Linked DNA regions of Homo sapiens: region 1 is linked to region 2. The links come from fine-mapping of genetic effects on gene expression. A gene starts in region 2. The other region holds a variant in brackets. All regions are shown on one strand. Distances are from middle to middle. Region 1 overlaps LINC02320 (long intergenic non-protein coding RNA 2320). Region 2 holds the start of LINC00239 (long intergenic non-protein coding RNA 239).

Evidence for each region. PIP is the estimated chance that this variant, and not a neighbour inherited with it, causes the effect. A credible set is the group of variants that fine-mapping cannot tell apart.
Region 1: its variant is the best candidate, but not a certain one, in a credible set for the expression of LINC00239 in whole blood (INTERVAL, PIP 0.72).

Annotation. Positions count from the first base shown.
Region 1 is chr14:101,684,701-101,690,078 of GRCh38, reverse strand. All of the region lies in intron 1 of LINC02320 (long intergenic non-protein coding RNA 2320), which reads left to right. Among named protein-coding and RNA genes, the nearest start is that of LINC00239, 43 kb to the left of the region's middle. RefSeq lists a silencer at 581-744. The variant T/A (reference allele first, on the strand shown) is at 3,242.
Region 2 is chr14:101,727,762-101,733,139 of GRCh38, reverse strand. LINC00239 (long intergenic non-protein coding RNA 239) reads right to left here and starts at 2,703. Exons shown (of 4, transcript NR_026774.1): 1 at 2,653-2,703; 2 at 1,672-1,783; 3 at 1,164-1,352; 4 at 615-904. LINC02320 (long intergenic non-protein coding RNA 2320) reads left to right here and starts at 1,834. Exons shown (of 6, transcript NR_184269.1): 1 at 1,834-2,086. RefSeq lists enhancers at 1,137-1,236, 1,967-2,026, 1,069-2,268.

The DNA.
Region 1 (5,378 bases), 43 kb after region 2:
AATCCTCCACGCTGTGGAATGGGACCCGAACAGGTTGCGCTGCTGTCTTGGGCAGCCTGCTTTTATTCCCTTATCTGACCCCACCCACATCCTGCTGATTGGTCCATTTTACAGAGAGCTGATTGGTCCGTTTTATAGAGCACTGACTGGTCCTCTTTATAGAGCGCTGATTGGTCCGTTTTGACAGGTTGCTAATCAGTGCATTTACAATCCCTGAGCTAGACAGAGTGCTGATTGGTGTATTTACAATCCTCTAGCTAGACCTAAAAGTTCTCCAAGTCCACACTAGATTAACTAGACACAGAGCACTGATTGGTGTGTTTATAAACCTTGAGCTAGACACAGGGTGCTGATTGGTGCATTTACAATCCTCCAGCTAGACATAAAAGTTCTCCAAGTCCCCACCAGATTAGCTAGATACAGAGTGCTGATTGGCGTATCCACAAACCCTGAGCTAGACACAGAGTGCTGATTGGTGCATTTACAATCCTCCATCCAGACATAAAAGTTCTCCAAGTCCCCACCCCACTCAGGAGCCCAGCTGGCTTCACCTAGTGGATCCTGCGCCAGAGCTGTGGGCGGAGATGCCCGCCAGTCCCGCACTGTGGCCCACACTCCTTATCCCTTGGGCAGTCGATGGGACCAGGCGGGCACCCCGGAGCAGGAGGTGGCACCGTTGAGGTGGCTCGGGCCGCTGGGGAGCCCACAGGGGTGAGGGGTGGGGCTTGGGCATGGCCGGCTGCAGGTCCTGAGCCCTGCCCCGTGGGGAGGCGGCTGAGGCCCGGTGTGAATTGGAGCACAGCATGGGCAGGCTGGCAGTGCTGGGGGACCTGGTGCACCCTCCGCAGCTGCTGGCCCAGGTGCTAAGCCCCTCACTGCCCAGGCAGGTGGTGTGGGCTGGCCACTCCCAGTGCGGGGCCTGCTGAGCCCCGCCCACCTGGAACTCGTGCTGGCCCGCGAGCTCGGCGCGCAGCCCTGGTTCCCGCCTGTGCCTCTCCCTCCACACCTCCTGGCAAGCAGAGGGAGCCGGCTCCGGCCTCGGCCAGCCCAGAGAGGGGCCCCCACAGTGCAGTGGCGGGCTGAAGAGCTCCTGGAGCATGGCCAGAGTGGATGCCGAGGCCCAGGAGGCACCTAGAGCAAGCGACGGCTGCTAGCACGTTGTCACCTCTCAACACCAGCGGCCCTGTGGCTAGTGGTCTCATTCCAGGGTCCCACTAGAGGATCTGCCTCCTACTCCTGGCTGTAAGAATTGAAGAAGAAAGAAACATGAAAAGTGGCTGAGTAGTCAAAGACAGGTTTATTTCAGAGAGTAAACCTGAGAGGGCCTTCTGGCCGAGTTAGGTTGGGAGCAGTCTCTCTTACAGACTAAGAGTATTTAAGGGTTCAGGGTGGGAGAGCTTATCACAGGCTTGAAATGTCCTGTGTCTCTTTGTCTTGCTTATCTGGGAGGGAGAGTTTTGTGTCTGTTCCCATACATCTTCCTGCACCTGCAGGCATACCCCCGAGTTTACTTTTAGCTTCCCTATCTTAGTGCACCTGAAAAGAAAGGAATGTGCTTATTTGGACCCACTGTTTTGCTGGGTCCCATTGTATGGGTGTGAAGCTTGGTGGTTACCCAAGAGACTTTCCCCTCTCTCTCCCTGCCTGAGCTGTCTTATCTGTGTTTTACCGTCTGCTCTTTCTGGCTGCTTGTTGTTAGAAAAGAAGTGATTTCCTTGAAATGCATGAGGTTAGAAAGGGAGCTGGAATTTAAAATGGTGGCGTTTGTCCAAGATGGCAGTGCTTCTGCTCTGTCACTGACACCAAGGTTGTAGATTGCATCCTTCCCAAAGTTGATCCTGAGATGAAAATTTGAGAGCAGGATGTTTATTTGGGTGAAGAAGTGATACCTGGAAGGGGATACAGCCAATCAAAGTTGTGTCATTAAGCCAGCCACCACAGGGAAACCAGAGCTTAACACTGTTGGGAGATGCTGGGAAGTTGTGTAACACACACACCTTAGAGTTATCTCACTTGGAGGAGGGCCAAGGGAGCCGAAATATTTATGCACCAACTTTCATCAGTCATTGGCGCAAGCTGTTTCAGAGGGTTGTTAATAGCCCGGCACTTCCGCTTCCCCTATGTGTGGGCAAAATGCCCTCAGGGTGGAGATGCTGAAATGGCAATGGGAAGTCACCTGGGGCATAGTGAGTGGAGAGTCTGAGGCAAGTAGGTGGGGCAGTGATGATTCTGCTCCATCCAACCATATTTTACCTGGTGCTGTTATTCACTAATGACCTTCACCTGAATCAGTTGTTATACTGGTGGTTGCAAAATTGTGATTTTCTAAATCCGTGACTTCTAGGTGAATTAACTGGCATTCTTTCACAAAAAGCTCCTCACCGTTTTTTTCTTTCTCTTTTTATGAATGCCACTACGGATGAACTTTGCTTTATGCAAATTGTCATCAAATGTGGTGTCAAGCTGGCTTCTGTGTCTTTTTTTTTGAGACAGAGTCTCACTCTTTTAACCAGGCTGGAGTGCAATGGTGCGATCTTGGCTCACTGCAACCTCCACCTCCTGGGTTCCAGCGATTCTCCTGCCTCTTAGCCCCTCTAGTAGCTGGGATTACAGGTGCATGCTACCACACCCGGCTAATTTTTGTATTTTTAGTAGAGATGAGGTTTCACCATGTTGACCAGGCTGGTCTTGAACTCCTGACCTCAGGTGATCCACCCGCCTCGGCCTCCCAAAGTGCTGGGATTACAGGCATGAGCCACCATGCCCGGCCAGCTTCCATGTCTTTTTGGCAAGAACCAGTCTTTGGCTTCTTCCTTGATTTTAGCACAGATGCCCTGACCTATGTTGGGCACCCCCTGTCCTGCACCTCGAATCAGCCACTTCTCTAAAGAGCTACTGGCTGGAAGGATTCGGTCTTTAAGATCAGATGCTTATGGTGCTCACTGGACCTGAGGAATTGTTGCTTGTAGTCTTTTCATGGGTCCTTTTATTGATATTTTCCCAGTGATCTCTGTTAGTTGTAACAGTGGCCTTTATTCCTTTAAACATTTTGCACACATTTTTTTCTTTTGTTTTGAAAATATTATTATTTTGAATAATGTAGCATAAATTAAAACTTTTAGGTTGGATGCGGTGGCTCATGCCTGTAATCCTAGCACTTTGGGAGGCTGAGGCGGGTGGATTGCCTAAGCTCAGGAGTTCGAGACCAGCCTGGGCAACACAGTGAAACGCCGTTTCTACT[T/A]AAAATACAAAAAAATTAGCCGGGTGTGGCGACATGTGCCTGTAGTCCCAGCTACTTGGCAGGCTGAGGCAGGAGAATTGCTTGAACATGGGAAGCAGAGGTTGCAGTGAGCCGAGATTGCGCCACTGCACTCCAGCCTGGGTGACACAGTGAGACTCCATCTCCAAAAAAAGAAAAAAAAAAGACTTTTAAGGAACTTAAGTACATATTTCCTGTGTCAATATATTTTATTTATTTTTTAATTGACAAGTAGAAATTGTATATATTTGTGGTGTACAACCTGATGTTGTGACACACTATGGAATGGCTAAATCAAATTATTGAACATATGCATCATGCCACATACTTATCATTTTTTTTGTGTGTGGTGAGAACACTTAAAATCAACTGTCTTAGGGATTTGCAAGTATATAACACATTGTTATCAACTGTAGTCACCATGATGTACAATAGATCTCTTGAACTTATTCCTCTTATTTCACTGAAATTTTGTGTCCTGCGACCAATATCTTCCCAATCCCCCAACCTCCAGCATCTGGGAACCGCTATTTTACTCTCTGCTTCTATAAGTTTGACTTTTTTACACTCTATATACAAGTGAGATTACGTATTTTTCTTTCTGTGCCTGGCTTATTTTACTTAATGTGATGTCCTCTCAGTTTATCCACATTGTTGCAAATGACAGGATTTTATTCTTTTTAAAGCTGAATAATATTTCATTGTGTACACATACTGTATTTTATTTGTTCATCTATCAATGGACACTTAGGTTGATTCCTAACTTGATTCTTGTAATACTGTAGAACATGGGAGTGCAGATATCTCTTTGACATACTGATTTCATATCCTTTGGATTTATACTCAATGTTGGGATTGCTGGATCATATGGAAATTCTATTTTTAATTTTTTGAGGAACTTCCATGCTGTTTTCCATAATGGTTGTACCAAATGTACATTCTTGTATATTGTACCTTGTACAACAGTGTACAAGATTTCTCTTTTCTCCACATCCTTGCCAACATTTATCTTTTGTATTTTCGATAAGAGCCATTCTAACAGGTGTGAGGGGATATCTCACTGTGGTTTTAATTTGCATTTTCCTGATGTTTAGTGATGTTGAGCATTTTTTCATACACCTGTTGGCCATTTGTATGTCTTCTTTTGTGAAATGTCTATTGAGGCCCTTTGTCCATTTTCATATCAGGTTGTTTTCTTACTATTGAGTTGAGTTTCTTATATATTTTGGATCTTAATCCCTTACCACACGTATGGTTTGCAAATATATTCTCCCATTCTGTAGATTATATCTTCACTCTGTAAAAGGAAAATAAATCTTGGGCCCCCAAATCACTAAGCTAAAGGGAAAAGTCAAGCTGGGAACTGCTTAGGGTAAACCTGCCTCCCATTCTATTCGAAGTCATCCCTCTGCTCACTGAGATAAATGCATATCTGATTGCCTCCTTTGGAGAGGCTCATCAGAAACTCAAAAGAATGCAACCGTCGGCTGGGCGCGGTGGCTCAGGCTTGTAATTCCAGCACTTTGGGAGGCGGAGGCGGGCGGATCACAAGGTCAGGAGATAGAGACCATGGTGAAACCCTGTCTCTACTAAAAATACAAAAAATTAGCCGGGCGTGGTGGCGGGCGCCTGTAGTCCCAGCTACTCGGAGAGGCTGAGGCAGGAGAGTGGCGTGAACCCGGCGGGCGGAGCTTGCAGTGAGCCGCGATTGCGCCACTGCACCCCAGCCTGGGCGACAGAGTGAGACTCTGTCTCAATTAAAAAAAAAAAAAAAAAAAAGAATGCAACTGTTTGTCTCTCATCTAACTGTGACCTGGAAGCCCCCTCCCTGCTTCGAGTTGTCCTGACTTTCTGAATGGAACCAATGTACATCCTACATATATTGATTTATGTCTCATGTCTCCCTAAAATATGTAAAACCAAGCTGTGCCCCGACCACCTTGGGCATATGTCATCAGGACCTCCTGAGGCTGTGTCACAGGCGTGCATCCTCAACCCTGGCAGAGTAAACTTTCTAAATCAACTGAGACCTGTCTCAGATATTCTGGGTTCACATTTTGGTAACCACGAAGGGATTCTGAGTGGAGGTGCCCCTGACGTTTGACACATCTCCAATTCG
Region 2 (5,378 bases):
GGTGGCTGATGCCTGTAATCCCAGGACTTTGGGAGGCCAAGGTGGGCAGATCACCTGAAGTGAGGAGTTTGAGACCAGCCAACGCATGGTGAAACCCCACCTCTACTAAAAGTACAAAAATTAGCTGGGTGTGGTGGCGCATGCCTGTAATTCCAGCTACTTGGGAGGCTGAGGCATGAGAATTGCTTGAACCTGAGAGGCGGAGGTTGCAGTGAGCCAATATGGCGCTGCTGCACTCCAGCCCGGGCAACACAGTGAGACTCTGTAAAAAAAAAAAAAAAAAAGAAGTAACTGGAATAAAATGAAAATTGTGCTTGTAGGACGTGAGCCAAGCAGATACATGCAGTTGATTTGATACAGTTGTTTACACAATGCACACTTCTACATGCACATGTACCTTGCATATTAGATGCATAATTACATCTGCCCCACTTAATTTTCAGATGCTCTCCGAGATGGGTGGGGGGTGCAATGGCACAGAAATGCATTACGTCGTCAGAGTCAAGGCCCCACTGACAATGCGGGTGCTCATTAGTTAAGCAGATATTATTAGGCATGTTTACCTGAGAGGAGAGGAACATTCTGTGAAATAATAAATCTGCTGGTTTCTATTCTTCTCCCTTTGCAGACTGAGTTTTTATTATTTTGATCCCAGTACCCATTAGAAACACAGTGTCTAAATATTGAAATGCTTTGCTTCAAAAGCTGCTAAGATACAGTGGCAAAGGTAGCCTTGCAATGAGGTTTTATCTCCAGAGTCCCAAGTTTTTGAGACAAATCCAATGACGCAGATCTTGTGGTCAAGGATGATGCAATGGCGCTCCAGGAACAATATCAGGCTCTGTGACTTGGGTGCCTTCTGGGTGTGTGGCGTGGTCTCGGTCTGACAATCTCTAGAACAACCCTACGAGGTGGTAATTATTATTCTCATGCTGCAAGGGATATCTCCCACCTCCTAGGTGGACTCAGGTCTTGTGGGGCTTAATGCTTTTAAATTTGGGCTGCCTTTTGAAGGGAAAAGACTACAAAATTATGAATACAAAATGAGGTTAAGGTCTTGGGAGGGGCCCATGCAAGCTGGGGGCTCTGCAGGTAAGCTTGTTTAGCTTCCCAGCAAATCCACCTCTGAGCTTGCAAATTACAAAGCTGGAATTTGAACTCACATCTGCTGGATGCAAAGTCCGAGGTCTTCCTGTAGCATGACCGTCTTCCTGTGTGATGAGAAACATCAGGCTGCCGAGGCCAAACAGTGGGTGCGTCACTTTCCAATGAGGCAGGTGTGCGGGACAGGAAGTGGGAGGTTCTCCTTGCAGGGGAGCGGCTGCTGCCAACATCCCAGCTGGTACCTGTCCCTGAGAATGGTTTGGCAGGTGGGGGCCACTTGAAGTCTCTGCTCCTACACCCCGTCACCCCTCCCAGGCTGCTTTCAGAGGAGGGCAAAGGGTATTCATTCCAGCCTCCAATTTCTTCCTCCCACTCCTCGAAAGCATTTAAGTGAGGAAGGCAGGGAAAACGTAGATGATTCTGCTATTGACAGGAGGCCTTTTTTTCCTGCTGGAAGTAAAAGGAGACACTCTAGCTGGGCAGCCAGCCCCACCCTCCAGGGCTCCATCTGGCCTGGCTGAGGCTGGCCAGCCCCTGCTGTGCATGGAGGGGTGCTGGGAAGCCTACCTTGCTTCACACTTTCCTCTTCCACACCCGGCCTGTGACTCATGCCTGAAACGCCTCCGTTCAAGCAATTCTTCCTTTTATTGTGAAGCACTGCTCTCTTCCGGCTCCTCCCCTAAGTCACCACGCAGGGGAGATTTAAGGGAGAGGTTATTTCCCCACCGTGTTCAGGGACAACCCTGTGATCATGGTTTTGGTCACATAGCTTCCAAGTGAGTGTTGTGCAAACATTTGCTAGGATCTCTCGGGGAGCCTGTTAGAAAAGAAACTCCTGAGCCTGCTCCAGAGCTTCTGTTCAGCAGGCCTGAGGTGGGACCATACACCTGTCTTTTCAGCAAGCCCCCCCCCACCTCTGAGGATGCACCCCAAAGCTAGAGAATTCCTGCTCTGAGCCATCTCTGAAAGCACCAAGAGCCAGGTTTGGTTTTTTGTTGTTGTTGTTGTTGTTGTTGTTGTTTTGTTTTTTTTTTAATTACACCCAGACCTGGGTACCTGAGCAATCACTGTCTCTGGAATCAGTGCAAAGTTACCGGGAGCTGCAGAGGCCCAGACAGACTGGAAGAGGGGAGAGCTTGGCTCTAACCCATGCAGCCTCCCCATTGCCCAAGTCCACCCCCAGACCACCTCCCTGCATTCAACCACGAGCTTTGTAGAGGGCAGGCATGCCCCAGGGGCTCTCAGCATCACCCCCCTGCCCCTACCTGTGACCAGAGTCTCCCTGGACTCTCAGCTCTGTCTTCCCAACTCGAAGAGCCTGCCAGGCCCCACCTGGGTACCCTTGTCCATACTGTAGCTTGGAAACCCTCTCAAGAAAGGAAGCTGGGTTAATTGCAGGCTCACTTTATTTTCCACATTCTCAGAAATCATTGTGCCTAGTTACCTGATATCCAGTGTATTAGTCTGTCCTCATGCTGCTGATAAAGACATACCCGAGACTGGGTAAATTATAAGGAAAAACAGGTTTAATAGGTTTAATGGACTCACAGTTCCACGGGCCTGGGGAAGCCTTACAATCATGGCAGAAGGTGAAAGGCACATCTTATATGGTGGTGGACAAGAGAGAATGGAACCAAGTGGAGAGGGAAACCCCTTATAAAACCATCAGATCTCGTGAGACTTGTTCACTACCACGAGAACAGTATGGGGGAAACCACCCCCATGATTCAAATATCTCCCACCAGGTCCCTCCCACAACACATGGGAATTATGGGAGCTACAATTCAAGATGAGATTTGGGTGGGGACATAGCAAAACCATATCATCCAGTGTCTTGAGAACTCTTGTTTTATATATTTGGTCCAATTTATTTTGACTTTTTCAGGCAGGAGAGGAAATCCAGTCTCTACATTCCGTCTTGTTTGGGAGTGAAAGTGTTCATTTTCTTTTAAAACAGACAATATCCTTCCAAATCTATAGTTAGTTCACTCATCCATCACTCATCCATAACCACTGTTAATATTTTGGTCTACATTCTAAGATATTTTTTTTCTGTGCATATGCGTGCACGTAGCAGGGTCACAAAATCACTCACAATACATCAGATGTGCAAAGAAAATAGAGTGTCTTCATTTTCCTACTTAATTAATCTGATCTTTCTTGAAAGGTACTCTCTGCTGGGTAATACAATGGGGAGAAACATCCATTCTAGTAACCTTGGTCTAATACAAACATTTAACCAGTTCTTTGAGCAGCTCAGCATTCTGAGGCTGAAGTGTTTGGCCAGTGGGGCTTCTGATGGCTGCCACTGTCTACTCCTCTACTCCAGATTGTGTCTGGGCACACAGCTGGTGGGCTGCAGGATTTGGGGGTTCTTTTGGTAGCCAGGAGGAAGGGGTCCTCTGGTCCACACATGTTCTCCAAGTTTCCCTGAGTTTGGCTGCAGAGCAGTTGGCCTGGGCTACTCCATGGAACGGAGTGGTGGCTGTCGAGGAGCAATGAGTCATGGGAGATCAGGTCACGTAGGGTCTTGTGGGCACTGCGAAGACTCTGGCTTTATTTTTCTTTTTTGAGACAAGGTCTCGCTCTGTCACCCATGCTGGAGTGCAGTGGCATGATCTTGGCTCACTACAGCCTCGACCTCCCAAGTTCACGCAATCCTCCTGCCTCAGCACCTCAAGTAGTTGGGATTACAGCCATGCGCCCCTACACATGGCTAATTTTTGTACTTTTTGTAGAGATGGGGTTTCACCATGTTGCCCAGGCTGGTCTTGAACTCCTGAGCTTAAGTGATCTGCCCACCTTGGCCTCCCAAAGTGTTGGGATTACAGGCATGAGCCACCGCACCTGGCCAAGACTTTGGATTTTATCCCAAATGAAATAGGGAAGCCACTGGAGGGCTTCAATGTGGTGGTAGGAGGCAAATACTGATTGAAAAGGTTCAAGAGAAAATGGGAGGAGAAAAATTGAAGATAATAAGAATAGATACTTCCAGCTGGGTGCAGGGGCTCACACCTATAAGCTCAGCACTTTGGGAAGTTGAGGTAGGGATTGCTTGAGGCCAAGAGTTCCAGAGCAACCTGGGAAACATAGCAAGACTCTGTCTCTACAAATTTTTTTTTTAATTTTTTTTTTTTTTGACAGAGTCTCGCTCTGTAGCCCAGGGTGGAGTGCAGTGGTGCAACCTCAGCTCACTGCAACCTCCACCTCCCAGGTTCAAGCAATTCTCTTCATTCAGCCTCCTGAGTAGCTGGGATTACAGGTGCCCGCCAACACACCTGGCTAATTTTTTGTATTTTACTAGAGACAAGGTTTCACCATGTTGGCCAGGCTGGTCTCCAACTCCTGACCTCAGGTGATCCGCCCACCTCGGCCTCCCAAAGTGCTGCAATTACAGGGATGAGACATTGCGCCCGGCCTACAAAAAATTTTTACAAATTAGCGGGGAGTGGTGGTGCACACCTGTAGTCCCAGCTACTAAGAGGCTGAGGTGCGAGAATTGCTTGGGCTCAGGAGATCGAGGCTGCAGTGAGCTGTGAGTATGCCACTGCACTCTGGCCCAGATGGATACTTCCAAAGAGTCTTGCTATAAAGGAGAGCAGAAAGGGAGAGAGAGATTTTATTAGTCCGTTCTCACGTTGCCAATAAAGACATACCCGAGACTGGGTAATTTACAAAGGAAAGAGGTTTAATTGACTGACAGTTCAGCATGGCTGGGGAGGCCTCAGGAAACTTACAGTCATGGCAGAAGGGGAAGCAAATATGTCCTTCTTCATATCTTCATATGGCAGCAGCAAGGAGAAGTACCGAGCAAAAAGGGGGAAAGCCCCTTATTGAACCATCAGATCTCGTGGGAACTCACTCACTATCATGAGAACAGTAGCATGGGGGTAACCACCCCCATGATTCAATTACCTCCCACCGGGTCCCTCCCATGACAAGTGGGAATTATGGTAACCACAATTCAAGATGAGATGTGGTTGGGGACACAGCCAAACCATATCAGAGATCAAGTTTTAATTTTTTTAATGAATGAATTATTATAATGGGAGATGATGGGTTGGCTCCAATAGGGAGGACAAATCAACAATTGGTGGTGGTGGTGGAGCGCTGCTGAAATGGGGGAAGCCAAAACCTGAGTGGAGGGTCAGAATCTTTGCGTGTTTTCCTTCAACCTCGTTCAGCTTAACAGGTGCTGGCACTGTGTTGTAATTGAGCAGGTTGGAGGTTTTTCCCAGGCGAGTATGAGGAAATGAGAGAAAGGTGAGGGGGCT